4 separate regions of the Homo sapiens genome follow, and regions 1, 3 and 4 are each linked to region 2. Evidence: fine-mapped expression QTL. A gene starts in region 2. Each other region holds a variant in brackets. All regions are shown on one strand. Distances are from middle to middle. Region 1 overlaps GOLGA3 (golgin A3). Region 2 holds the start of GOLGA3 (golgin A3). Region 3 holds the start of ANKLE2 (ankyrin repeat and LEM domain containing 2). Region 4 overlaps CHFR (checkpoint with forkhead and ring finger domains).

Region 1 (5,706 bases), 55 kb after region 2:
GGGAGGAAGGAACTGGAGGGGCTACAGCAGCTGCTGCGGGTACCTGTGTGTGAGGCGCTGGGTACAGGCGGGAGCAGCAGGGAGGAAGGAGCTGGAGGGGCTACAGCAGCTGCTGCGGGTACCTGTGTGAGGCTCTGGGTACAGGCGGGAGCAGCAGGGAGGAAGGAGCTGGAGGGGCTACAGCAGCTGCTGCAGGTACCTGTATCTGAGGCGCTGGGCACAGGCGGGAGCAGCAGGGCAGGAAGGAGCTGGAGGGGCTACAGCAGCTGCTGCAGGTACCTGTGTATGAGGTGCTGGACACAGGCGGGAGCAGCAGGGAGGAAGGAGCTGGAGGGGCTACAGCAGCTGCTGCAGGTACCTGTGTATGAGGTGCTGGACACAGGCGGGAGCACCACTTCTGGGGCAGCCCCTGGTTCCTGTGCCATGCGGCCTGCGGCCAGGCAGTGCTCCCGGGGAGCTGGCGCCCTCGTCCAGTGGGGCGCTCGCAAAGCCACCTGGTCCACGTCATGCGGCAGGACAGAGGCAGGGGCGAAGCCTGGGCCGGCTCCGATCCCTTGGCCGCGCTGTGTGTCACGGACCAAGAACGTGATTTCATGGACTACAGCAAATGGGAGGGTGCGTGGGAAAAGTTTGCCAATTTGCGATAAACTTCTCAACAAAGAACTCAGGGTTCGGTCTTGACTGCTCGGGAAAGGAGTGTAATTGCTAAGTTCCCCTTGTAAATGAGGGGCTTGAGTTACAGTGAGAATTTATTTATAGACACAGGCCGACAAGCGTCCATCATCCAGAAATCCAAAACCTGGCCAGGCCTGGTGGCTCACACCTGTAGTCCCAGCACTTAGGCAGTGAGCTGTGGTTGGACCACTGCACTCCAGCCTGGATGACAGAGTGAGACCCTGTGTCTAAAAAAAACAAGAACAAAAATCCAAAATCTGAAACTTTCTGAGCATCAACATGATAAAGGAAATGATCATTGGAACATTTCAAATTTTTGGATTGTGGATACTCAGCTGGTAGTTGTAACGCAAATATTCAAAATTCCAAAATTTGACACACTTCTGGTCCTGAGCATTTTGGACCTGGACTGGCATCATCTAGATGGCGCCGAGGAGGACATGTGTGTGCTTAACCTATGAAAATACAAACTCGGATCTTGGCAGGATGTTTAAGATCTGTTAGCTTTTAAAAATCTGACTTCATTTTCCACAGAACGTCAAGTCTGAGTTGGAGATGGCCCAGGAAGACCTGTCCATGACCCAGAAGGATAAATTTATGCTCCAGGCAAAAGTGTCGGAGCTGAAGAACAACATGAAGACCCTGCTCCAGCAGAACCAGCAGCTCAAGCTGGACCTACGCCGCGGCGCGGCCAAGACGGTACTCAGGCCCGCGTCCCTCCCGGGGTAGCCGACGTGCGCTGTAGATGCTCTCGGACAGGAGGCTGGCAGACGTGTTAGTCATTCAGACATAAACGGATTTGTTGAGCCCACACTGAGCAGCTGCTGTGTAGTCAGTGGTAATGGGGTGACAGATGAAATCATTTCATTCTGGTTTCATTCATCCAACAGTGTTTTCCTCGTTCTGTGAATTCAAATACCACTTTGTTGTAATGTGCTTTGTAAAGCAGATGAGCGGTGGTCTGTGACTCGGCAGTCCCTGCTGTGTGTGAAGGGCTGGGGCCCGGGAGCTGTGCCCAGGCGCCCGGCGGTTTTCTGTGCTCGGTCCACATCCATGTTTTCCAGGAGGCAGGTGGGAGGGCAGCGCTCGGATTGAGAGGCCGTTTAGCGTCGTGTGCTTATCTGTGGAAAAAGTTTGAAGTCCCAGAAAAGGGAGCCTAAGCTGGAAAACTTACTTAATTTCTTACGGAAATTCCACATCAAGGTCTTGAGTATCTGATGGGAGAAGCGTCTGGGAGAGCTGTAGTCTGTGGCTCGGCCCCGTCCTGCCGCAGACCCAGGACTTAGGTTGTCTCTGCTTTGCTCTGGTTTTGTGCCTTAGGAATAAAGGTGTTTCCTCAGCCAGCTATTCTGGAGCTCCGGGGACTGTCGTGCTGGGCTGCCACGGCGGCCAGGACGGTCCCCTTCCCAGAGGCCCCACGTCCACCAGTTGGGGAGGCCCGTTTGCCACAAGCTGTGCTAGTGAGACTGACCCGAGGGAGGGGACGGTGGGAAAGCTGATCATGTGCTTTTAAAAACAGAGAAAGGAGCCGAAAGGCGAGGCCAGCTCTTCCAACCCTGCCACGCCCATCAAGATCCCGGACTGCCCAGTTCCCGCCTCGCTGCTGGAGGAGCTGCTGAGACCACCGCCCGCCGTGAGCAAGGAGCCCCTCAAGAACCTGAACAGCTGCCTCCAGCAGCTCAAGTACGACCGTATTCCGTGCTGCACTTCAGCTAGTCTTAAAGATTAATGCCCTCTTACCTGGGAGGGCACTCCTGGTGCCAGTACTGAGTGCCCAGCAGAGTTTCAGCAGGTTTATATAAGGGTGGGGGACTCGCATACATAGCCTCTGAGGTTTATATAAGGGAGGGACTTGCACACACAGCCTTTGAGGTTTATATAAAGGGGGAAGGACTCAGCCTCTGAGGTTTATATAAAGGGGGAGGGGGACTCGCACAGCCTCTGTGGTTTATATAAAGGGGGAGGGACTCACAGCCTCTGCGGTTTATATAAAGGGGGAGGGGGACTCGCACAGCCTCTGAGGTTTATATAAAGGGGGAGGGGGACTCACACAGCCTCTGCGGTTTATATAAAGTGGGAGGGGGACTCGCACAGCCTCTGAGGTTTATATAAAGGTGGGGGAACTCGCACACACAGCCTGTGAACTCATAGGTGGAAACTGCCTGGAGTTAAACTACCCTGATAGGCCCTGAGAAGCTGGAAGGCCACACATGGTGCACCTGGCAGCCTGAGGCTGAGCGAAGTGTGTAGGGCGGAGCCAGGCGGCGCCCCGAGGGCAGGTAACGGAGTGGAAGTCGTGTGTGCCAGGCCTCAGTGACAGCTTCCACCCTGCCGCCTGGTCAGGACTGGTCCTTGAGCCTGTGTCCTCTGCACAGTGTAGAGAACGGTGCTGAGAACAGCTGAGCTTCTGTGGTCTCAGTTGGTTTGCGGATCCCCGAAGGCGCCCCGGTCCACTCAGGTGCTAGCGAGTGACGCTGTCCACAGGTGGCGCGTTCTGCCTGGCACTTGTGTGATCTGGGCCTTCTTCCTCCTTCTTCTGTCCCAGGCAGGAGATGGACAGCCTGCAGCGCCAGATGGAGGAGCACGCCCTGACGGTGCACGAGTCTCTGTCCTCGTGGACGCCGCTGGAGCCAGCCACTGCCAGCCCTGTGCCCCCGGGGGGTCACGCCGGCCCACGCGGCGACCCACAGAGACACAGTCAGAGCAGGGCTTCCAAAGAAGGGCCGGGAGAGTGACTGCTGTGGACTCGCCTCCGTGCGCCGCTGCCCCAGAAGGCTCTTATCAATGTTATTTATTTGATTGTGT[G/C]GTCGATGTTTTTCTAAGACATGAAATTTAAGTTTTGTTTTGCCTTTAACAAGAAGTAAAATATATAGCAGAATGAGAGCCAAGGACTAGAAAAACATTCGAAGATCACAATTAGCTTTTCACATGGAATGACCAACTCTTAAAAGCCTGATAGGCTCTCGGCGAGGAGCTTTGAACGTGTCTGAAGGGTTACTTGTAGGTCGTGGCTTCTGAGCGGCCACCGATGCTGCTCTCTGCGGGTGACAGGGAGAGGCTGCGTAACTGGGAGCAGCTGTGTGACAGGGTCTGCGGCACCGCGCCTGGCCAGGCCGGCTGCAGTTTCTCACTTCCCTGTTCCATTCAGTAAGAGCTTTACTTTTCCGCAGAAATGAAATTTTATCTGTACCTTTGGCTTTTTACTTGTTTTTTTGGATAGCCATCCCACCATAGGATGTGTACATAGATACTGAATATCATAATCCAATCTTTGTTTTTTTTTTTTTTTTTTTTTTGAGACAGAGTCTCGCTTTGTTGCCCAGGCTGGAGTGCAGTGGCACACTCTCCGCTCACTGCAAGCTCCGCCTCCCAGGTTCATGCGATTCTCCTGCCTCAGCCTCTCGAGTAGCTGGGATTACAGGCGTGCGCCACTATGCCAGGCTAATGTTTGTATTTTTAGTAGCAATGGGGTTTCACCATGTTGGCCAGGATGGTCTCGATCTCCTGACCTCAAGTGATCTGCCCATCTCAGCCTCCCAAAGTGCTGGGATTACAGGCGTGAGCCCCTGCGCCCGGCCTGTCACCCAGTCTTTAAGAAGCATATGCTCATGTTATTGAAGAAGAACCTACTTATTATTGATTGCCTTTTGAAAATTTGTTGGGAATAATTTACCTGCAGGATTTAGGGATAGTCAGAAAATTCTAAGAAATATAATTATTTTATTTACCTTCTAAAGCCAAATATTCTTACACAGAAAGGTCCTCTGTTGTTCTGGTTTTACTTTGTTGCTGAGGATCTTTCCTTCCTGCTGGTCTCTTCCTCTCAGGCCACTGGCCCTGTGTGATTCCACCGTGGCTGGCCACTGGGAAGGGGCAGCTTGGACCCTTGGTCAGGCCTGACGGCCATCAGGAGGCACAAGGACACTGAGGCCCCATATCTGATCTGACCTTTGGGGGGGCACAGGGAGAGGCCGGTGGAGGAGGAGGAGGAGAGCAGACCAGGGGCTCCCTGCAGCGACTCCCGCGGTTTCCCCTGGAGTCAGCCAGGTGTAGGTCGCAGGCGGTAACAAACCTCACACTCCTGTTCCCCAAGTGAAAATCTTTACCATTGTCTGTGGGAGCGCCTGTACTCGTGTGTAGGAGCACCTGTACTTCTGCAGTCATCGAGAAGTCCTGGATCTTTTGTGGTTACACCAGCATCATGTGGCAAGCAGAGGCGACTTCCGGAAGAGACAGGCAGGCACCGTGAGGAAGGTGGCTGTGCTCTCCCAGGTGTCTCAGAGACAGATGCCTTATTTAAAATCAGCACGACATGTGTGAGATCTTCTGTTTCCTACCCCAAATCCTGAAACCCTGCAGACACTGGCTGACTGGGAGAGGTGGGGTCTGTAAGTTGTCCCCTAGTTTGCTAAGAAAATCTAAAATAATATTTATTATATGAGTTAGGAGAGAGAGAATGGGTCCGCGTGGCCTCCTCTGCAGATGTACTGGTCTGAAATGAGGTTCTGAGTCACTGGCCAGGCCAGATGTGCTCATGTCGGTGTCTGGTGTCTGTTTTGTGGAGAAAACAGTATGGTGTGTTTTAAGCTATTTGTGTTCTGTTGTAATATACTTTTAGAAGGTTAATTGGTAAGGTTAAGGTAGCATTAACCACAAAGATGTTTGGTATTTAAAAAATATTCTCTAGCAAATATTGGAATTTCCAAAATATATCATTTGTACAGGGTTAATTTTGAAATAATACTTGAAAATTTCATTATAAATATATCCTACTTTTTATCTTAAGTTGAAGATGTTATTTACTAAATTGTTCTTGTACCATTAGAAAAAAAAATACGGCAATTTACGTTCTTATTTATTTTGGCTGTACTACCCCTTTGTTTTAATTTTAAAATCAAGAAATCGGGCCGGGCGCGGTGGCTCATGCCTGTAATCCCAGCACTTTGGGAGGCCGAGGCGGGTGGATCACCTGAGGTCAAGAGGTCCAGACCATCCTGGCCAACATGGCAAAACCCCGTCTTTACTAAACAT
Region 2 (7,453 bases):
ATAGAAATTGTATTAAAGCTGTTAAGAATTTTACTTAGATTAGCATTTTTCCCACACTGTGCCATCAACTTAGTATATGATTAGATTCATTGTTTCTAACTGTATTTAAATTTAATGTTTGTCACATTTTGCTTGCTAAATTTTTAAAATTTTAAATTACTGTGGGTACATAAAAGGTGTATATATTTATGGAGTACCTTGATATTTTAATACAGACATACAATGTATAATGATCAACTCCCAGTAACTGGGGTATCCATCACCTCAAGCCTGTATCATTTCTTTGTTAGGAACATTCCAGTTCCACTCTTTTTGTTATTTAAAAATATACAATACATTATTATTAACTATATTCACCCTCCTGTGCTATGGAATACTAGATCTTATGCTAATTAAATGTTTTCCCTATTTCTCCCATTGGCTACACCTTAGGATAGTGCAATATGAAAATCAGGAAACTGAGCTTGGTGGAGTGTTTTCTTCATTCTGTCATTTTATCACATGAGGACATTCACGTAACCACGGTCACAAAATACAGAACAGTTCCATCACCACAAAAATCTCTCTCCATCTACCCCTTTTTAGTCATCCGAACCCCACCACCACTCTATAATGCTGTCATTTTGTGACATAAGTGGACACATCGTACAGTTCATGCAGTGTAGACCTTCGGAGATGTTTTCCTCCCTGGATGTAATGCCTTGGAGCTTCGTCCAAGTTATTGCACACATCAGTGGTCAGCTCCTTTTTATTGCTGAGTAGTGTCCATGGCATGGGTGGTCCACGGTTTGTTTCACCACGTCAGAGTGGCATGGGTGGTCCATGGTTTGTTTCACCACGTCAGAGTGGCGTGGGTGGTCCACAGTTTGTTTTGCCACGTCAGAGTGGCGTGGGTGGTCCACGGTTTGTTTCACCATGTCAGAGTGGCGTGGGGGGTCCATGGTTTGTTTCACCATGTCAGAGGACATTTTGGTTGTTTCCAGTTTGGGGTCAGTAATGTACAGGCTTTTGTGTAGACATAAGTTTATTTCTCTGAGTTCAATGTCTAGGAATGCAGTTGCTGGGTCATAAAATTGTTTACTTTTTGAAGAAACTGCCCAACTATATTCCAGAGTGGGTGCACTATTGCTGTTCCCATCAGCAATGTATAAGAGATTAGTTACTCCAGAATACATTATTCCCAGCATTTCATATTGCCACTGCTGTATATTATTTCAGCTGTTCTAATAGGTGTATACTAATATCCCAAGGCAGTCTTTTTTTTTTTTTTTTTTTGAGACAGAGTCTGACTGTGTCACCCAGGCTGGAGTGCAATGGTGTGATCCCAGCTCACTGCAGCCTCCACCTCCCAGGTTCAAGCGATTCTCCTGCCTCAGCCTCCCAAGTAGTTGGTATTACAGGTACCTGCCACCATGCCCAGCTAATTTTTGTATTTTTAGTAGAAGCAGGATTTCACCATGTTAGTCAGGCTGGTCTCGAACTCCTGACCTCAGGTGATCCACCTGCTTCGGCCTCTCAAAGTGCTGGAATTACAGGCTTGAGCCACCGCGCCTGACCTCAAGATAGTCTTAATGTGCATTTCTGTAATGGCTAGTGATGCTGAACCTGGTCACAAGCTTATTTGCCACTCATATATCCTTTTAGTGAAATGTGTTTTCATGTTTTTTGCTTGTCTTCTGTTTGTGTGTGTGTATGGTTTTTTTTTTTTTGAGATGGAGTCTCATTTTGTCACCCAGGTTGGAGTGCAGTGACACAATCTCAGCTCACTGCAACCTCCGCCTCCCAGATTCAAGCAATTCTTGTGCCTCAGCCACCCAAATAGCTGGCATTACAGGTGTGCGTCACCACGCCTGGCTAATTTTTGTATTTTTAGTAGAGACAGGGTTTCTCCATGTTGGCCAGGCTGGTCTCAAACTCCTGGCCTCAAGTGATTTGCCCCCTTAGCCTCCCAAAGTGCTGAGATTACAGGCATGAGCCATTGTGCCCAGAATAATTGTATTTTTTTTTACTGTCAAGTTTTGAGAGTTCTTTATATATTCTAGCTACTAGTCCTTCAACAAACGTGGTTTGAAAATATTTTCTCACAGTCTGTAACTCATCTTTTCATCCTCTTAATGTGGTCTTTCTCACAAGGTTGGTTTGTTTGTTTTGAGATGGAGTCTCGCTCTGTCGCCCAGGCTGGAGTGCAGTGGCACGATCTCAGCTCACTGCAACCTCTGCCTCCCAGGTTCAAGTGATCCCCCTGCCTCAGCCTCCCGAGTAGTTGGGACTACAGGCACACACCACCACGCCCAGCTAATTTTTTTGTATTTTTCATAGAGACAGGGTTCACCATGTTGGCCAGGATAGTCTTGATCTCTTGACCTTGTGATCCACCTGCCTCGGCCTCTCAAGGTGCTGGAATTACAGGCGTGAGACACTGTGCCCGGCTTTTTTTTTTTTTTTTGAGACGGAGTCTTGCTCTGTTGCCCAGGCTGGTGGCACGATCTCCGCTCACTGCAACCTCTCCGCCTCCTGGATTCAAGCGATTCTCCTCCAGCCTCCTGAGTAGCTGGGATTACAGGCACATGCCACCATGCCCGGCTAATTATTATATTTTTAGTAGAGATGGGTTTCACCATTTGGCCTGGCTGGTCTCAAACTCCTGACCTCAGGTAATCCGCCCACCTTGGCCTCCCAAAGTGTTGGGATTACAGGCGTGAGCCACCGCATCCGGTGAAAAGTTTCTAATTTTTTCATGAAGTTTACTCTATCAACTTCTTTTGTGAATTGTGTTTTTTTGGTCAGATCTAAGAACTCTTCCCCAAGCTCTAGATGTGAGAAATTCTGTTTTCTTCTAAAAGTTGTATATTTTACGCCTCAGTCTGATCATTTTGTGTTAGAATTTGCATTTGCAGATAACATGATGGCCCATGTAAAAAATACAAGGATTTTACAACAACAACCGCAAAACACCAAATGAACCCTCAAACTAATGAGTTCAGCGAGGTCTCAGGATAAGAAAATCAACATAGAATTCATCACATTTGTGTAGACCAACAGTGAACACGTGGAAAACGTCAAAAACGCAGTGTTACAGTTGTTTGATGTGAAATACTATAAACTTAAAAGGTGCAGAATCTGTATGCTGAAATTACAAAATGCTGGTGGAAGAAATCAAAAGACCGAAATAAATGGAGGGGCCACCAGGGACGCAGATGAAGGACCGAGTCAGCGATGCCCGTGCTCCCCAAACGATCTGCAGCAGTTCCCATCAAAATCCCAGAAAACTTCGTAGACTGAAGCGTATTCCAAAATCCGCAGAGATGAGCGCAACATCACAGAGGACCCCGAGGCGCCCTCCAGGCCATTTCCTTCCTGACAGCTGGAAGAGCGGCCTGGCGGATGAGGGAAGGTGGAAAGCCGTTCCCCAGCGGCCAGCGGCCCGCGCCGTCCAGCTTTGCCCTTTTTAAAGGGGAAGCAAATAGGGTCCAAAGCAGCGTCGCCTTTGATCTGGCACCTGAAGCGCGAAGGGCGCCGGCCGGGTGGAGGTGCGGGGTTGGGGCGGGGACCCGACTAGGGCGGGCGGGGAAGTCACGCCCACACCGAGCTCGGCCGCGCCCATGCCGAGCCCCGGCCACGCCACTTCCGCCGGAAGCTCGGTTCAGCTTCCTGAAAGAGTTGGTCCTGCAGTTCCGGAAGTTGCGTTTCTACTAGGGAAAGGTCCGCAAACTCTTAAGGTCACTTTCTGAAGGCGGCCTCATCACAGTCGGAGGTGAGCTCGATCCGGACCCTGTGGGCAGAGGGTCCCCGGCCCTAGGGTGGCCACTTGAAGAAGAGGAGGACGTTCTCTGTTCCGGAACGAAAGTAGCGCGTGCAGGCTGTTTCCGGGGACCCGAGGCCGATGCACCGCTCGCCCCGCCCCTCTCACGGCCACGTCTCCGCCGGAGCATCCGGGCCGGGCGGCCTCCGGGGCTGCCAGAGCAGCAGGGTGAGGGGCTCGGAGGCCGCGGCGCCTCGGGGCTCGGGCTCCCGCTCCCGCTCCCGCTCCCGCAGTGCATGGGCGGGGGAGGCTCGAGGGGCGGCGGCGGGGCCTGGGCGCGTCCCTGCAGCGTGGCGGGACGGCCCCGTTCCAGTCACCCCCGCCTCGCTGCGGTGGCCTCGGGCCTGGGCGCCCGCCTTCAGCTGCGGCGGAGCTGGCTCTGTAAATGCCGGTGCCCGCGAGCCCTCCTGAATGCTTGTCTGCGCCCGACGAGCGCGGCCTGTCCCGAAGCTGTCCACTGCCACCACTCGGGCAGTGCTTGCTTTAGCCTGGCCCTTTGCAGCTGAAAGGCGTGACATGGTGTCGGGTGGTTCGTGGGAAGTCGGGGTTTCAGGAGTCCGTGTACTTCCTTGTTTGTCTTTGTCGCTGGCCGACTTGTCTTCATTCCAGGTGGCCAGAGCGAGTGGGGCCGGGCGTTGTCACGGGTATGAACCCGACGAATGTCAGTCGTGTGGCGGGTCCTGGGTATTGTGGGTCTGGGTCACTGCCCCCGCGGAGCCCACCTAGGACAGGGACACCCAGGGTCGCCAGCGAGAGGGTACCGGGCGGTGGTTGGGTGGGGTCCGCTACTCTAAGTGGGAGCCTGGGGGGCGGGCGACTTCCGTGCTAAGGCCTCTATGACGAGAAGCAAGCCAGGCAAAATTGTGAGAAAAGCGCGCCTCAGGCAGAAAGTTTGAAGACCCTGAGGGCGGAGGATGTGGCCACAGTGTAATGGCAAAGGGGGAAAGCGATGGCGGTAAGGATGTTGGTGTAGGCAGGTGCTGGATTCTTAAGAGGTTGGAGTTTATTGTCACTGGGCCAGTGTAAGCCATTTACAGATGACTCATGGATTTTTTTTTTTTTTTTAAGAGACTGGGTGTGTTGCTGTATTGCCCAGGCTGGTGTGGAACTCCTGGCCTCAAGCGATCCTCCCACCCCAGCCTCCCAAAGTGCTGGTGTTACAGGTGTGAGCAGCCACACCCGTCGTCGTGGATTATTTTGAACTGTCTTTTAAACGACATCAACATAGCGCTTTATAACCCTTTAATATCTTTTCAGGCAGTATACCTTAAATGGCAAGAAGGAAATAAATCATCTGACATCACTCAGATTGAAGAGGAGCTTTTTTTCCCCCGATTGCCTTAAGAAGTAGCATACTTTCCCAAGTGAGAATGCCTTCAGTTGGCTTTTAGCGATTTTGACAAGCAACAACTAAAGGGAAAATCGTGATAATTACTGTCATTTTATTGAGGACACGGGACAGACTCTGTGCCTTGTTATATTTAATCCTGGCAAAATTTTGCGTTCATTTTCTCATTGTTTTACTGGTGAGGAAACAGGCTAAATGTGATTAAGAAATCTTTAGCCCAGGCTCTCACAGGTAAGTGGTGGAGGGTCGGGAGCTGAGGCCGGAGTCCTGACTTCCAAGCCTGCCCTTCACGTCTCTGCAGTGACATGAGGCTTGCTTGCTTTTGGTTTTCACTTTGTGTATAGATCTGTGTTTACTTTTGGATACTAGTGTGGCCTCCACCAGGTACTCTTTTCCTGAGGAAATCGTGTTTGGTTTTTGGCTGTGCTCTGTTGTTTCTAATACCCGATAGGAACAGGTGAAACGAGGTGGTGTAGATGGAGCCGTGAATGTTTGTATACAGAATTCAGGTGTGGGGGAAGCAGAAAGTCCTGTAGGTGCCTGAGGTGGTGGTTTCTCAGTATGAAGTCCCTTGATGTTACCCAGCTGTGAACCTAGGGTTGTGTGTACCTTTCGCAGTTCTAAGTGACAGCTTTGTCCTGTCTCTTCTCTCTAGAGACGCAGGAGTGCGAGTGATCATAAGTGAGACTGATTAGACTGGCCTCTTTATTTAAAATAGAGCCATGTTTGTAGTACCAGCTTTCTGTGATGCACTGGCAGTTGCTCCTCCTCCTCGCTGCCCGGAGATCGCTTTTTGTCAGTAGTCTGAGGTAATGAGGCCCTGACGACTGAGTCATTCCAAATTTTAACTAAAAATCAAGCAAGACTGGGAATCGACCGAGACTGCCAGCTTATTGCCCTACAGGGAGAAGTATCACTGTCACCAAACTCCAGGCAGTTAGTGAATTCTCTCTCTGGTCCGGCTTCAGGAGGAGCTGCCTGTAAAGAGGGGCCGTCTTTGTGACTTACAGTCACCGTCATGGGGTCTCTGTTCTGGAGAGGTGGGCTGCTTGGACACCAGCAGGGGAATTAAGTGAGCAGAATCTGTGATTGCACTGGACTCAGCTCGGTGCGGTTGGCTGTCACCATGTTGGCGTGCCCTCTCGGTGGAACCTGAGCGTCTTTGGCTGTGTTCCTTCTTGGTCAGTGTAAGGCCCAGGCGTCGTCACTGTGGGCCTCTGCAGCAGTTCTCCTCTGCAGCAGTTCTCCTCTGCATGTTCCACCTGTAATGGCTGAGTCCAGTCCTGCTGGTCATCCCATCCTTCCTTCTGTTCAGGTGGTGGTGCCTGTCTGGGCCGTGGCCGTGATGCTGCTCTTCCAGTTTCTTTTTTTTTTTTTTTTTTGGAGAATGAGAAAATAACTTTATTTCATTGTGGGGAGCGGGCTGATGTCCAGCCTCAGAACTTCTGGAACTGCTTCTTGGTGCTGGCAGCCTTGGTGACCTGGAGCACGTTGAGGTGCACTGTCTTGCTCAGAGGCCGGCAAGGCCGGCACTCGCCCACTGTGACGATGTCACCGATCTGGACGTCCCTGAAGCAGGGGAACAGGTGTACAGACATGTTCTTGTGGTGCTTCTCGAAGTGGTTGTACTTGCGGATGTAGTGCAGGTAGTCTCGGCGGATGACAGTGGTCCTCTGCGTCTTCATCTTGGTCACCACGCCAGAGAGGATCCGCCCTCGAATGGAGACATCACCAGTGAAGGGGCATTTCTTGTCAATGTAGGTGCCCTCAGTAGCCTCTTTGGGTGTCTTGAAGCCCAGACCAATGTTCTTGTAGTACCGCAGGAGCTTCTCCTTGCCAGTTTCTCCCAGCAGGACCCTCTTCTTGTTTTGAAAGATGGTCGGCTGCTTTTGGTAGGCACGCTCAGTCTGAATGTCCGCCATCTTCCCGGCCACTGAAAAAAGGTGCTCTTCCAGTTTCTAACTCCCTGGACTCCCTCATTGGAACTGAAGCTCACAGATGTTTCAGCTGGACTAGTTTAGACTTTGCTGTATTTTAAAAGGCAGTGTTGATGCTCCAGGATTCAAATACTTAATCATTTTGTTTTGGAACCATTAGCTTTGTAGCAGAGGAATGTACTCAGCAGAATCAGCAGAACTGAAGATTTAATTCGGCAAATTAAACCTGTGTTGGCACTTTAGGAGTTGGGAGTGTTCAAGGTGGTGGGAGGCAGACGGGGAATGAGTCTCTGTCTTCAAGGATCTCGCCATGTAATGGGCACACACGCAATGGCAGACATGACGTGCTGTGGTGGAGGCCACGTG
Region 3 (7,453 bases), 67 kb after region 2:
TCTCCACCTGAGGGCCTCTGGCGTCCTGCGGTTGCCGTCCCTGCCCCTGCATTTCCTCTGCTGAACCACTTGGCCTGGGCTGTTTTCCTGACTAGACCCTACTGTATGTAACATACGGCTGGGTTTCTACAAGTGCTAAATAGCCATTGATAACAAACTTAATAGACACACGGCCTTTAAGGAAATCCAATTAATATTGAAAAAGAAGGGGAAGAAAAGAAATTAGCTACTCCCTGCTCATCTAGGGCTTTTCCCAGCACGTTGGGAGTAAATCCTCGAGCTGTGAGACTTCAGCTTCCGCTCAGTCCCTGGGGCTCACATGGCCCCTTTGTGATCTCGGATCAGAAATGAAGTAGAAGTTAAATTACAACTAGGAATAAAATCAGGGCTGGGCGCAGTGGCTCACGACTGTAATCCCAGCACTTTGGGAGGCCGAGGTGGGCGGATCATGAGGTCAGGAGATCAAGACCATCCTGGCTAACGCGGTGAAACCCCGTCTCTACTAAAAATACAAAAAATTAGCCGGGCGTGGTGGCGGGCGCCTGTAGTCCCAGCTACTGGGGAGGCTGAGGCAGGAGAATGGCGTGAACCCGGAAGGCGGAGCTTGCAGTGAGCCGAGATCGCGCCACTGCACTCCAGCCTGGGCGACATAGCAAGACTCCGTCTCAAAAAAAAAAAAATTCAGAACGGCTCTCAGAAGAGGCCATTGATTCTAATAAGCTTCATTTTGTTCATTCACCGGAAATCTACTTCTACCTGCAGGAGTTTACGTCTCAAAGTTTTTCATTTCTACCTAAACAGTAGCTAATATAGGGTTGGCTTCTGAACAGTGGAGTTGTTCTCCATGTTTTCCTGTGATTGTTCCTTTCTCATTTAACTGGGAGTGGATGCATTACATGGGGGTGAGGGCATGGCCCTATCAGGACCCTGGCTGCTTACCTGGATTCCACAGAAGTCCTGGTGTCAAGGCTGGTGGAGCTGCTGCACCAGAGACCCTCAAGCATGAAAACAGGATTGACCAGGACAGCCTCACGGTGCCGAGAACGAAAGTGCCTTCCCTCTCCGCTAATCCACAGCGTCCACCTGCCCGAGAACAGCTCTCCCAGTCCCACCTTCCGTCCCGCTCTGAGGTGAGCGGGGAGAGAAAAGACAGGAATGCGCATTGTGGGCGCTTGGGCTCCGTGGCCGCGTCCATCACCGTCCGTCCACTCTCCGCTGCCTTTGCTTAGTCATGTGGTCGCTGGATGTGTTCAGGAGACGGCAGCGTCTCCACAGCCCACTGAGAGCTTCTGTAACTAAGAAAAAGCTCTTAATAACTTAATGGAGAGTGGACGCTGGGTGTCAACAGCTGACTACAGCTGACCATTTAACAAATCGGCTCTAAAGCCCTTCATGTATGGAGGCTCCGTAACGAGGACTTACATAATTACCTTTTTATGTATGTATGTACGTACTTGTTTATTTATTTATTTTTGAGACAGGGTCTCTCTCTCCCAGGCTGGAGGGCAATGGCGCAATCTTCGCTCACTGCAGCCTTGACCTCCCAGGCTCAAGTAATCCTCCCTCCTCAAGGCGTGTGCCACCACGTTCAGCTAATTTTTTAAATTTTTAGCACAGACAGCGTCTCGCCATATTGCTCAGGCTGGTCTCCACCTCCTGGGCTCAAGCGATCCTCCTGTCTCGACCTCCCAAAGTGCTGGGATTACAGGTGTGAGCCACCGTGCCCAGCCTTCTTGGGCCTCTTCTAAGGGAAGTATATAAGGCTCTGTCCCATGACCTATCACCTCCCACAAGCCCCACATCCTAATACCATCACCTTGGGGGTTAGGGTTTCTTTTTTTTTTTGAGACAGAGTCTCGCTCTGTCACCCAGGCTGGAGTGCAGTGGCGCGATCTTGGCTCACTGCAAGCTCCGCCTCCCGGGTTCACACCATTCTCTTGCCTCAGCCTCCCGAGTAGCTGGGACTACAGGTGCCTTCCAGCATGCCCGGCTAATTTTTTGTATTTTTTAGTAGAGACTGGGTTTCACCGTGTTAGCCAGGATGGTCTCGATCTCCTGACCTCGTGATCTGCCCGCCTCGGCCTCCCAAAGTGCTGGGATTACAGGCGTGAGCCACCACGCCCGGCCAAGGGGGGTTAGGGTTTCAACATACGAACGCTGGGGACAGACACTCAGAATACAGCAGAGGTGTACGTTTAACTTTGAAAGAAACTGCCTCACTATTTTCCAAGGTGGTTAACTCAGTGTTTGCTCTTGCCAGCAAAATTTGATATTGCCAATTTTTAAATTTTAGCCATTCTGGTGGATTTCAAGCAGCATCTCATCGTGGTTTGAATTTCCATTTCATCCATCTTCAAAATTACTGACCCTTTCTTCTGTAGTGCCCAACCAACCATTAGTACCATCCAATGATATTTTTTAAGAGATGGGGTCTTGCTATGTTGGTCAGGCTGGCGTGCAGTGGCTATTCACAGGCGAGATCACGCTCATGGCAGCCTCGAACTCCCGGACTGAAACTACCATCACCCCTCACGCTCCAGAGTTGCTGAGACTACAGACCTGAGCCACCTCGCTCAGATCAATTATGTTTTTAACCAAGGATATCAATTATATTTTTCAGGTCTTTCATTTTCATTTAATAATATCTAAATTAGGCGGGGCGCGGTGGCTCACGCCTGTAATCCCAGCACTTTGGGAGGCCGAGGCTGGTGGATCACTTGACATCAAGAATTCGAGACCAGTCTGGCCAACATGAGGAAACCCCGTCTCTACTAAACATGCAAAAATTAGCCAGGCGTGGTGGTGGGCACCTGTAATCCCAGCTACTTGGGAGGCTGAGGCAGGAGAATCGCTTGAGCCCAGGAGGCGGAGGCTGCAGTGAGCCGAGATCGCGCCACTGCACTTCAGCCTGGGCGACAGAGCAAGACACCGCATCAAAAAATAAATAAAACATCTAAATTACATACAGTAAAATCCTCCTTCCCTTTTTCGAGACAGGGTCTCACTATTAGGTTGGTGCAAAAGTAATTGCGG[C/T]TTTTACCATGACTTTCAAAATATTTGCCCGGGCTGGTCTCGAGCTCCCGGGCCGTGGGGATCCTCCCGCCTCGCCTCCCAAGGCGCTGGGACTCCGGACGCAGCCGCCGCGCCCGGCAAAATCCGCGCTTTCAACTGCGCGTCAGGGCCCCTTGGTGAAGGAGCGGGAAGCTCCGCCGGTCTCCATAGCGCCGGCGGCCTGTTCTGCGGGTTCGCGGGGGAGTGAGAGGCGCTTCCTCACTCCTGCTCCAGGACGGGACGACGGCCGCAAACAGTACTCGGGCTCGGAGCACACGAACCCGGAGGCCGCTTCGTTCTCGGAGACGCACAGCGCCCCACGGACGCCAGGCCGGGGCCGGGAGGCGCGAAGAAGCGCCGCCCCGCGCCCGGCCCCGCCCTGGTGGCCTCCCCGGGCCCCAGCCCCGGCCCCCGCCAGCACATTGCGCTCCCCGCGCCTCGCCGGTCCCAGGACCCCGCGTCGGGCTGCCCGCGCCCCGCCTGCCGCGCCCGCCCGTCCGCTCGCCCGTTCCCGCCCGCTTGGGTCCCAGGGCCGGGGCCGCGCCCTCGCCGGGCCTCCGCGAGCGGGGCCGCCGTCCGTGTCCCCCGCGCCGCCCCGGCCGCCTCGAGCGCGGCGCCGTCAGGCAGGGCGCGGGCAGCCCGGCGCGGGGTCCTGGGACGGGCGCGGCGCGGGGCGCGGGCTTCTCGGCGGCTGCGGCCCGGGCGGCGGCGATGCTGTGGCCGCGGCTGGCGGCGGCCGAGTGGGCGGCGCTGGCCTGGGAGCTGCTGGGCGCCTCGGTGCTGCTGATCGCTGTGCGGTGGCTGGTGCGGCGGCTGGGCCCGCGGCCGGGAGGTCTGGGCCGCAGCGGGACCCCAGTTCCTCCGCCAAGCGCGGCCGCCGCCCCCGCCTCAGGTAAGGCCCAGGCGGTCGCTGGGTCCCCGCACCCTGGCCCCTTCCCCGCCCCGACGCCCTCCTCGGGCCTGGGGTCCCGGCCGCGCCCCTGGAGCCGGCAGCAGTTGGGCGAGGCGGCCGGGGAAACCAGGGCCGGTCGGGAAAGGCCATTCCGGCCGCGGAAAGGGCAGTTGCGGGGACTTGGCTTCCCGGGCCGGGGGCGGAGGGGCCACGCCGGGTTCGGGGGTGAGAGCTTTCCCGGGCCCTGGAGCAGCCTCCGGGGAAGGCGGCGGGGGCCCGGCGAGGCGTTAGCGGAGACTCTTGCTGCGGTCTCTCGAGACCTGGGGAGGGATGGCCCAAAGGAGGGCGGCGCGGGGAGGAAACCCCTGGGTCCCGGATGTGTTTGGAACGTGAAGCCATTGCGGTTACTGGTCATGGAACATAAGGCAGAGACGGAAAAGGCAAATGTAACTCAGGGGTTTGGGGCCAGAGGAAGAGGGAGAAGGTGGCCATTTATTGCTTTGCGGTAGACTGTCGGGTCTGGGTGATGTGGAGATCAGAGGTGGGTTTTGGTCGTTTTAAGTTTGAGGTAACTGATACAGTGAACTGTGTATTTCAGCTCCATCCCCTTTTCCTGGCATACAACTCTTGAAATCCCGGGAACCTCCAAAGTGATGTCTTTTGTAGGCTGAGTGGACTGGTGGCCGGCAGCCCCTAGGGAGCTTCTGGATGGGGCTGGTCGCAGGAAAGACCAAGGCAGGGTTAGAGGTTCTGGGGACTTTCAGCCCCACCCCCAACCTCTGGGGAGGAGAGAGGGGTGAAGGTTGCGTTGATCACCAGTGGCTGATGAATCACGCCTGTGAAATGAAGTTCCTGTAAAAACCCAAAAGGGCTGGGTTCAGGGAGCTTCCAGATAGTACGTGGGGGTTCCTGGAGGCGGTGCCCAGAGAGGCCCTGAATTTCCAAGCGCTTCCCCCCGGTTTTACGTCACGCATCTCTTCACCTGTATTCTTTGTAATCCTTTATACTCTGCTGGTAAGTGTAAGTAAAACATGTCTGTGAGTTCGGGAGCCACTCTAGCAAATTACCGCAACCTGAGGAGGTCACCGGGTTACGCCCCGTCGGTCCCAAGCGCAGGTCAAACAACCTGGGCACTGGAAGTGGGGGGCAGTCTTGCGGGGCTGAGCCGTTAACCTGTGGGGGTCTGCTGGTATCTCCAGGAAGACGCTGTCAGAATAGATGACTGAATTAGGATGACAGACGACACCCAGCCTGTGTCCACTGCAGAACTGACGACCTGCGTGATTTGTGGGGAGAAAATCCCCACATACCTGGTGTCCGAAGCATGTTGCAAGACTAGTGGGAGAAACTGAGTTTGTTTTTACTCTAAATTGTCAGACTGTTAGTCACTGCGGAGAGGTGCTTTCTGATGATTGAGTGGGGATTCCTGTCCAATTGTGTGAGTTTGTGTCTCGGCCCTACCACTTTTTTTTTTTTTTTTTTTTGAAATGTAGTCTCGCCCTGTGGCCCAGGCTGGAGTGCAGTGGCGCGATCTCGGCTCACTGCAAGCTCCGCCTCCCGGGTTCAAGCGATTCTCCTGCATCAGCCTCCCGAGTAGCTGGGATTACAGGCGCCTGCCACCACGCCCGGCTAATTTTTGTATTTTTAATAGAGACGGGGTTTCACCATGTTGGCCAGGATGGTCTCGAATTCCTGACCTCAGGTGATCCACCTGCCTCAGCTTCCCAAAATGCTGGGATTACAGGTGTGAGCCATCGCACCGGGCCCTACCACTTATTGCTGTGGGCTTAACCTGTTTTCAGCCTGCTCTTTTAGGAATGGGGATGATAGTGATACCTGGTTAGGCTTTTTTGGGAGTTGGGTAAGTGCAGCACTTGGTATGTGTTAAGCACCTCTGAGTGCTGTTACTGTCACCAGCGGCATCATCCAGGCAGAGCTGCGGACAAGGTGGCGGCGGGTGAGGGTGGTGTTTTGAGAATGGCTGAAATAAAAAAATACTGATTTATTTTATATAAAAATATGTTTTTATATATGATGTATAATATACGTATATCATGGCATATGATACGTGTATATCATATAGCACATATAGTATACATATATATAGTCAGCAGAGATTTAGAGAAACTGGGCCTCGTGCATTGCAGGTGGGGACGGTAAGTGGTGCAGCTACTCTGGGAATCAGCCTGGCAGGTTTTTAGGAAGTTAAACCTGCCCTGCATTCCTGAGCTTTTATTAGACAAATGAAAACTATTTTCACACAAAAACCCATATTTAATGTTCATAGCAACTTTATTTGTAATTACCAGAAACTGAAATAACTCAAATGGTTAAACTTGCACACTGATACCCCGGGGTGCCACTCCGCAGCGATCCTCTCTGCCACGTGGGTGCCCCGGGGTGCCACTCTGCATGATCCACTCTGCCACGTGGGTGCCCCGGGGTGCCACTCCGCAGCGATCCTCTCTGCCACGTGGGTGCCCCGGGGTGCCACTCTGCGTGATCCACTCTGCCACGTGGGTGCCCCGGGGTGCCACTCCGCAGCGATCCTCTCTGCCACGTGGGTGCCCCGGGGTGCCACTCCGCAGCGATCCACTCTGCCACGTGGGTGCCCCGGGGTGCCACTCCGCAGCGATCCTCTCTGCCACGTGGGTGCCCCGGGGTGCCACACTGCGTGATCCACTCTGCCACGTGGGTGCCCCGGGGTGCCACTCCGCAGCGATCCACTCTGCCACGTGGGTGGATCTCAAGGGCATTATGCTGAATAGGAAAAGCCAGTCTCAAAAGTTGTGTACTTGGCCGGTTGCGGTGGCTCATGCCTGTAATCCCAGCACTTTGGGAGGCCGAGGCAGGTGGATCACAAGGTCAGGAGTTCAAGATCAGCCTGGCCAACATGGTGAGGCAGTCTCCACTAAAAATACAAAAAAATAGCGGGGCGTGGTGGCAGGTACCTGTAATCCCAGCTACTCGGGAGGCTGAGGCAGCAGAATTGCTTGAACCCAGGAGGTGGAGGTTGCGGTGAGCAGAGATCGTGCCACTGCACTCCAGCCTGGGCGACAGAGCAAGACTCCATCTCAAAAAAAAAAAAATTGTTAATGGAACATTATAACCCAGTGTTCAGACCTAGCTGTTTCTCACATCTTTACCCATCGATCTGTCAAAGACCTTGTGATCATACTGATACTTCCAATTTCAATGCGACGTCCGCGGGTTTATTCTTTTTTTTTTAGGTGGAGTCTCACTCTGTTGTCCAGGCTGGAGACTCACTGCAACCTCTGCCTGCCCAGTTCAAGCGATTCTCCCACCTAGCCTGCTGAGTAGCTGGGATGACAGGTGCATGCCACCATGCCTGGCTAATTTTTGTGTTTTTAGTAGACACCTGGTTTCATCATGTTGGCCAGGCTGGTCTCAAACACCTGACCTCAAATGATCCATGCACCTTGGCCTCCCAAAGTGCTGGGATTACCAGCATGAGCCACCGTGTCCGGCTCCCTGGCTTTATTCTAATGC
Region 4 (7,453 bases), 31 kb before region 2:
TCAGCCTCCCAAGTAGCTGGGTTACAGGCATGTGCCACCACACCCGGCCAATTTTGTATTTTTAGTAGAAATGGGGTTTCACTGTGTTGGTCAGGCTGGTCTCGAACTCCTGACCTCAGATGATCCACCCACCTTGGCCTCCTGAAGTTCTGGGATTACAGGCATGAGCCACCGCGCCTGGCATTTTTTTTTTTTTTTTAAGAAATGAGGTCAGGCCGGGCGCGGTGGCTCACGCCTGTAATCCCAGCACTTTGGGAGGCCGAGGTGGGTGGATCACGAGGTCAGGAGATCGAGACCATCCTGGCTAACACGGTGAAACCCTGTCTCTACTAAAAATACAAAAAATTAGCCGGGCGTGGTGGCGGGCACCTGTAGTCCCAGCTACTCAGGAGGCTGAGGCAGGAGAATGGCGTGAACCAGGGAGGCAGAGCTTGCAGTGAGCCAAGATCACGCCACTGCACTCCAGCCTGGGTGACAGAGTGAGACTCTGTCTCAAAAAAGAAAAAGAAAACAAAAGAAATGAGGTCTTGGCCAGGCACAGTGGCTCATGCCTTTAATCCCAGCACTTTGGGAGGCTGAGGCAGGTGGATCATGAGGTCAGGAGATCGAGACCATCCTGGCTAACACGGTGAAACCCTGTCTCTACTAAAAATACAAAAAAATTAGCTGGGTATGGTGGCGGGTGCCTGTAGTCCCAGCTACTTGGGAGGCTGAGGCAGGAGAATGGCGTCAACCCAGGAGGCGGAGCTTGCAGTGAGCCACTGCACTCCAGCCTGGGCAACAGAGCAAGAGTCCGTCTCAAAAAAAAAAATGAGGTCTTGCTCTGTTGTGCAGGTTGGGAGAGTGATGTGGTCATGGCTCACTGTAGCCTCGAACTCCCGGGCTCAAGTGATCCACTCACCTCAGCCTCCTGAGTAGCTGGGACCATATGCTCGTACTGTCACGCCTAGTTAATTTTTTTTTCTTTTTTGTATTTTTTGTAGAGATGGTGCCTTGCTGTGTTGCCCAGGCTGGTCTAAAACTCCTGGGATCAAGTGATCCTCCCACCTTGGCCTCCCAAAGTATTGTGATTACAGGTGTGAGCCCCATGCCCAGCCTCAGACCTCTATTTTTTATTTTTATTTTTTTTTCCCCAGAGGGAGTTTCGCTCTTGTTGCCCAGGCTGGAGTGCAGTGGCACGATCTTGGCTCACTGCAACCTCCGCCTCCCGGGTTCAAGCAATTTTTCTGCCTCAGCCTCTTGAGTAGCTGGGACTACATGCACTCGCCACCACGCCTGTCTAATTTTTTTGTATTTTTAGTAGAGATGGGGTTTCACCATGTTGGCCAGGCTGGTCTCGACCTCCTGACCTCAGGTGATCCACTTGCTTCGGCCTCCCAACGTGCTGGGATTACGGGTGTGAGCCACCGCACCCGGCCCAAAGCTCTGTTGTAACAAGTTTATGACACAGTGTGTATCATATGACCACGGGTATGTGGGTTTGCCCTGCGTTAGACTCGGTGCTCGAGGGCTAAGCCTGGTCACAGACATCTCCGCATTTGTTTCTCTGCAAATGGGCTCCTTGCCCCCAGCTCCACCCCACGTAGAGATAGGCACAAATAGAGTTAAGATGTGAGTTGAGTGAGCACACACTCCTCGTAAGCCACTTGTCATTCCTAAACTACGACATCTCAGGCTGCCAGCTGCACTGGGCTCCAGTCAGTGACACCTTACAGGCATGGTTCTCTCCTGAGCTGGATGGATCAGCACCTATCTTGTTTGATTCCTCTCACAGGGTCTGGGGGTGGTGGCATCTCCCCTAAAGGAAGTGGTCCCTCTGTGGCAAGTGATGAAGTCTCCAGCTTTGCCTCAGCTCTCCCAGACAGAAAGACTGCGTCCTTTTCGTCGTTGGAACCCCAGGATCAGGAGGATTTGGAGCCCGTGAAGAAGAAAATGAGAGGAGGTTAGTGTCTGGTTGTGTGTGTCCTCAGTCCTCTCGTGTGCTCCTGGGGCATGCGGGGGCCGCTGCCATGCTCCGTGCTGTGGGGCATTGCTTCCTGCAGGGGCATGTGGACCCTGCCTCAGGTTGATGCCTGTAACACCTCCGGCATTTTCATTCAGAAAACCTGGGCCTGTTTTTTTGCGGTTTGCATAATCCAGATAGAACTGTGATTTGCTACAGGCTGTTCTCTTGGTCTGGAAATAGTGCATTCTGAATTGCAGAATTAATCTCAAAATCCTCCTTCCTGGCCAGGTGCAGTAGTTCATATCCGTAATCCTAACACTGGGAGGCCAAGGCAGGAGAATCACTTGAGGTCAGGCGTTCGAGACCAGCCTGGGCGACAGAGCAAGACTTTATCTCTAAAAATAAAAATCAAGCCTGACACCGTGGCTCCCGCCTATAATCTCAGCACTTTGGGAGGCCAAGGTGGACGGATCATCTGAGGTCAGGAGTTCAAGACCAGCCTGGCCAACATGGTGAAACTCCGTCTCTACTAAAAATGCAAAAATTAGCTGGGTGTGGTGGTGCATGCCTGTAATCCCAGCTACTTGGAAGGCTGAGGCAGGAGAATTGCTTGAACCCGGCAGGTGGAGGTTGCAGTGAGCCAAGACTGTGCCATTGCACTGCAGCCGGGGCAACAAGAACAAAACTCCATCTCAAAAAAAAGAAAATCAAAAAGAAAGCCCTCTGTCCTGGTAGGACAATAATTTCTAAAAATGTAGCTTAAATCTTCACATTGAAGATGATTTAGGGAGAAGTCTGCACTTTGAAAGCCAAAGTTAAGATTATTAGAAAACATTTGGGAATGTTATGGTAGAAGCATTGCTGTATAGCAGTCCAGAGAGCAGCCAGCCACTGGGGCACTGTGACAGGAAGGTTCTAGGAGGGGTCCCCAGGGAAAGAAATTAGGTTATCTGACACGTGGGGTTGATCGGTGTGGGGAAGGTGTGGAAAGAGTCAGCAACAGTTACACAGGAAAAATAAGCACAGGAATGAGGAAATTTTAATTCTAGCAAACATGAAAAATTGTGTAAGTCACACAACTTAATCTAGTAAACTACTTGGCTCAGCAGTGAATACTTGCATAAGCATAATAATACAAATACAGTATCATGAACTAATGTAATCTGTTAATGTAATGTTGGCAGGGGTGTCTCAGGACAGAGTTTTTCTCTACCTTAATAGATGTCAGGAATGATGTCTAAAATTGATAAATCAAATGTACCATGATAACTTAGAAACACAGAGGTAAATACCAGAAGAAACAGCTCAAAGACATGAAAATAGTTTTCCTCCGAGGAGGGAAATTGGGTGAGGAGCGGCTGAGACGGAGGGTGACTGCCTTTGTTTTCTTCTAAATATATTATGTATACATTTTTTTAAGAGACAGGATCTTGCTTTGTCACCTAGGCCAGAGCGCCGTGGTGCAGTCTTGGCTCACTGCAGCCTCCACCTCCTGGGCTCAGACTGTCCTCCCACCTCAGCCTTCCGAGTAGCTGAGACCACAGGTGCACGCTACCATAGCTGGCTAATTTTTTTTCCCATTTTTTTAGAGATGGGGTTTCATTATATTGCCCAGACTGGTCTTGAACTCCTGGGCTCAAGCGATCTGCCCACCTCAGCCTCCCAAAGTGCTGGGATTACAGTTGTGAGCCATTGCACCTGGCTTCTTCTAAATACTTGGCTTTTTAAATTGTGTACAGTTTCTTTAATTAAAAATAAAAATTAATTGATTACCAACATCTGAGCATTATAGAAAAATAAAAACACCAGAAGAGGGTGGGGCGCGGTAGCTCACACCTGTTACCCTAGTACTTTGGGAGGCCGAGGCGGGTGGATCACGAGGTCAGGAGATTGAGACCATCCTGGCTAACACGGTGAAACCCTGTCTCTACTAAAAATACACAAAATTAGCCGGGCGTGGTGGTGGGCACCTGTAGTCCCAGCTACTCAGGAGGCTGAGGAAGGAGAATGGCATGAACCCGGGAGGCGGAGCTTGCAGTGAGCCGAGATCGCGCCACTGCACTCCAGCCTGGGCGACAGAGCGAGACTCTGTCTCGAAAAAAAAAAGACTGCATGTATTTCCTTCTCGGTTACGACAGTTAGAACACATCCCTTTCTCCTGTGGACGGGGACCTTGACCTGAACCTGC[G/A]TGTATTTCCTTCTTGGTTACGACAGAACACATCCCTTTCTCCTGTAGATGGGGACCTTGACCTGAACGGGCAGTTGTTGGTCGCACAACCGCGTAGAAATGCCCAAACCGTCCACGAGGACGTCAGAGCAGCGGCTGGGAAGCCAGACAAGATGGAGGAGACGCTGACATGCATCATCTGCCAGGACCTGCTGCACGACTGCGTGAGGTGCGACCGTGTTCACCCTTGGCTCACGGAACATGGCACTGCAGGTTCTTCGTCCCGTGTGGGGCAGGGCTGGGCATGAGACAAGCCTGCAGGTCCTGTTTGGCCTGGCATCTGCTGAGGTTACTCTGTCACCCAGATAAGTGGGTGGAGTGGGTGGAGTGGGTGGAGCTTTCTCAGCCCACTGCAACCTCTCCCTCCCAGGATTGAGCGGTTCTCTGACCTCAGCCTTCTGAGTTGCTGGGACTACAGGTGCACACCACTATGCCTGGCTGACTTTTTTTTTTTTTTTAATGTTCTAAATATTTTTTATTCCTTTTTTTTTTTTTTTTTTTTTTTTTTTTTAGATGGAGTCTCGCTCTGTCACCAGGCTGGAGTGCAGTGGCACAGTCTTGGCTCACTACAACCTCAGCCTCCCGGGTTCAGACGATTCTCCTACCTCAGCTTCCTGAGCAGCTGGGACTGCAGGCGTGTGCCACCATGCCCGGCTAATTTTTTTGTATTTTTTAGTAGAGACAGGGTTTCACCATGTTGGCCAGGCTAGTCTTGAACTCCTGACTTCAGGTGATCTGCCCACGTTTGCCTCCTAAAGTGCTGGGATTATAGGCGTGAGCCACTACTCCCAGCCACCCTGCTGATTTTTGTGTTTTTTGTAGAGACGGTTTCGCCATGTAGCCCGGGGTGGTTTTTTGTTTTTGTTTTTGTTTTTTGGAGTTAGAGTCTCGCTCTGTCACCCAGGCTGGAGTGTAGTGGTGTGATCTTGGCTCACTGCAACCTCCACCTCCCAGGTTCAAGTGATTCTCCTGCCTCAGCCTCCCAAGTAGCTGGGACTACAGGCATGCGTCACCACATCTGGCTAATTTTTTTGTATTTTTAGTAGAGACGGGAGTTTCACCATATTAGCCAGGCTGGTCTCGAACTCCTGCACTCAGGTAATCTGCCCACCTTGGCCTCCCAAAGTGTTGGGATTACAGACGTGAGCCACCCCGCATGGCTACCACTTTCATTCTACTCGTGGCACCAACAAGGAGGAAACCTGGAACCCAGAGCCGGAGGCTGTAGACCCCACAAGTTTTGAGTGTGTGGGTCGTGTGTGACCCCGTGAACTCTGCAAACAGATGAAAGGAACTCTGCACATTTTAAATGCTCCTTATCTGGGAAGGTGTATTTCGCATAGAATGAACGTAGGAGCCGCTGAGGAAGGGCCTCCTTGCTTTTCCGCGGGAACTCAAGAGTGACAACCTTCCAACTTCTGGGCCAGAAACACTTGCTGTCTCTGTTGTTTGTGTTCCTGAAGTCATAATCTACTCGCCTCTGTCTTTCCTGAAAACACAGAGGCCGTGTGGCCTCTGATTTCTTTTCATTAACCAAGACTGACTTAAAGGGTTTTTAGGTTGAACGATGGCTGGGCCCCTGTAGGCCCTTCCGTGGTGGGGCTGCTGCGGACCTTGGTCGAGGGTCGCGGTTGCATCTGTGGGACTGTCTGGACACTGTTCCTCTTGCACTTTCAGTTTGCAGCCCTGCATGCACACGTTCTGCGCGGCTTGCTACTCGGGCTGGATGGAGCGCTCGTCCCTGTGTCCTACCTGCCGCTGTCCCGTGGAGCGGATCTGTAAAAACCACATCCTCAACAACCTCGTGGAAGCATACCTCATCCAGCATCCAGGCAAGTGAGGGCATCCACACCAGCACCCGGGCACGTGAGGGCGGTCCCTCCACCACCACCCAGGCACGTGAGGGCATCCACCCAGCAGCACCCGGGCACGTGAGGGCTGTCCCTCCACCAGCACCCGGGCACGTGAGGGTGGTCCCTCCACCAGCACCCGGGCACGTGAGGGCATCCACACCAGCACCCAGGCACGTGAGGGCGGTCCCTCCACCACCACCTGGGCACGTGAGGGCATCCACCCAGCAGCACCCGGGCACGTGAGGGCTGTCCCTCCACCAGCACCCGGGCACGTGAGGGCTGTCCCTCCACCAGCACCCGGGCACGTGAGGGTGGTCCCTCCACCAGCACCCGGGCACGTGAGGGTGGTCCCTCCACCAGCACCCAGGCACGTGAGGGCATCCACACCAGCACCCGGGCACGTGAGGGTGGTCCCTCCACCAGCACCTGGGCAAGCGAGGGTGGTCCCTCCACCAGCACCCAGACAAGTGAGGGCGGTCCCTCCACCAGCACCCAGGCAAGTGAGGGCATCCACACACCAGCACCCAGGCATGTGAGGGCGGTCCCTCCACCAGCACCCGGGCACGTGAGGGCATCCACACCAGCACCTGGGCACGTGAGGGCAGTCCCTCCACCAGCACCCGGGCACGTGAGGGCGGTCCGCCCAGACCCCTCCTTCCGCAGCACTGCGCACGCGAGCTCCCAGCAGTGTGAGCTGTGTCTGCCTGCCATGTCTCACTGCCGGTGAATGGCGCTGTGTCCTTTCAATTCTAGACAAGAGTCGCAGTGAAGAAGATGTGCAAAGTATGGATGCCAGAAATAAAATCACTCAAGACATGCTGCAGCCCAAAGTCAGGCGGTCTTTTTCTGATGAAGAAGGGAGTTCAGAGGACCTGCTGGAGCTGTCAGACGTTGACAGTGAGTCCTCAGACATTAGGTAAATCATGCCCCTGGCTCAGAGCAGAGTGTGTGAGCCAGAGGAGCATCACAACCGTGACCGAGAGCTCACTACTGGGTGGACAGCATGGGTCCTGAGATCTAGTTCTGCCCTGAGCAGCCAAGCTCTTAAATGGCTTGAGCTTGTTTTCTGATATTGGATAGTATTAGCACCTCCCCTGAGAGGCGTGGCAGGGACTGGGTGAACACTTAGCGGGGTAGCCAGGGGGTAGCCAGCAGAGCGTCAGCCGCAGGCGACTGCTGTAGACATTTGCACCCTCGGCTGACACCCTTCCCTTTGCTTCGACTCGTCATGGGTGTGGCATCTCTGGCTGTGACAGAGGGACATCATTCCATGTTATTTTTTCCCACATGAGCACATGTATTCTTTGTAGTTGATCTAGCGACTATAAAGTCCTATAGTATAAATTGCAATGTTTATCATTTGTCAGGACGTTATTACAGAAGAGGCACCATCACCAGGCCAAGACAATCCCAGCCTCAGAGACCTTA

The links.
Region 1: its variant is fine-mapped to the expression of GOLGA3 in whole blood (TOPMed, PIP above 0.99). The same link has a PIP of 0.9 or more in breast, esophagus mucosa, esophagus muscle, fibroblasts, gastroesophageal junction and left ventricle.
Region 3: its variant is fine-mapped to the expression of GOLGA3 in nasal epithelium (TOPMed, PIP 0.94).
Region 4: its variant is fine-mapped to the expression of GOLGA3 in whole blood (TOPMed, PIP 0.99).

Annotation. Positions count from the first base shown.
Region 1 is chr12:132,770,809-132,776,514 of GRCh38, reverse strand. It overlaps GOLGA3 (golgin A3), which reads left to right. Exons shown (of 24, transcript NM_001389683.1): 22 at 1,210-1,374; 23 at 2,195-2,358; 24 at 3,221-5,706. The coding sequence ends at 3,410. Among named protein-coding and RNA genes, the nearest start is that of ANKLE2, 12 kb to the right of the region's middle. RefSeq lists an enhancer at 4,514-4,713. The variant G/C (reference allele first, on the strand shown) is at 3,481.
Region 2 is chr12:132,825,320-132,832,772 of GRCh38, reverse strand. GOLGA3 (golgin A3) reads left to right here and starts at 3,904. Exons shown (of 24, transcript NM_001389683.1): 1 at 3,904-3,970. It overlaps CHFR (checkpoint with forkhead and ring finger domains), which reads left to right. Exons shown (of 18, transcript NM_001161346.2): 18 at 1-417. It also overlaps the pseudogene RPS11P5. RefSeq lists silencers at 3,387-3,596, 3,967-4,026, 4,527-4,626 and an enhancer at 3,677-3,816.
Region 3 is chr12:132,758,108-132,765,560 of GRCh38, reverse strand. It overlaps ANKLE2 (ankyrin repeat and LEM domain containing 2), which reads left to right and starts at 3,729. Exons shown (of 13, transcript NM_015114.3): 1 at 3,729-3,943. The coding sequence starts at 3,763. RefSeq lists enhancers at 3,061-3,160, 3,515-4,383 and silencers at 3,311-3,600, 3,691-4,280. The variant C/T (reference allele first, on the strand shown) is at 3,034.
Region 4 is chr12:132,855,956-132,863,408 of GRCh38, reverse strand. CHFR (checkpoint with forkhead and ring finger domains) reads left to right here. Exons shown (of 18, transcript NM_001161346.2): 7 at 1,775-1,942; 8 at 4,182-4,341; 9 at 5,850-6,004; 10 at 6,779-6,941. Among named protein-coding and RNA genes, the nearest start is that of CHFR, 28 kb to the left of the region's middle. RefSeq lists an enhancer at 5,655-6,854. The variant G/A (reference allele first, on the strand shown) is at 4,134.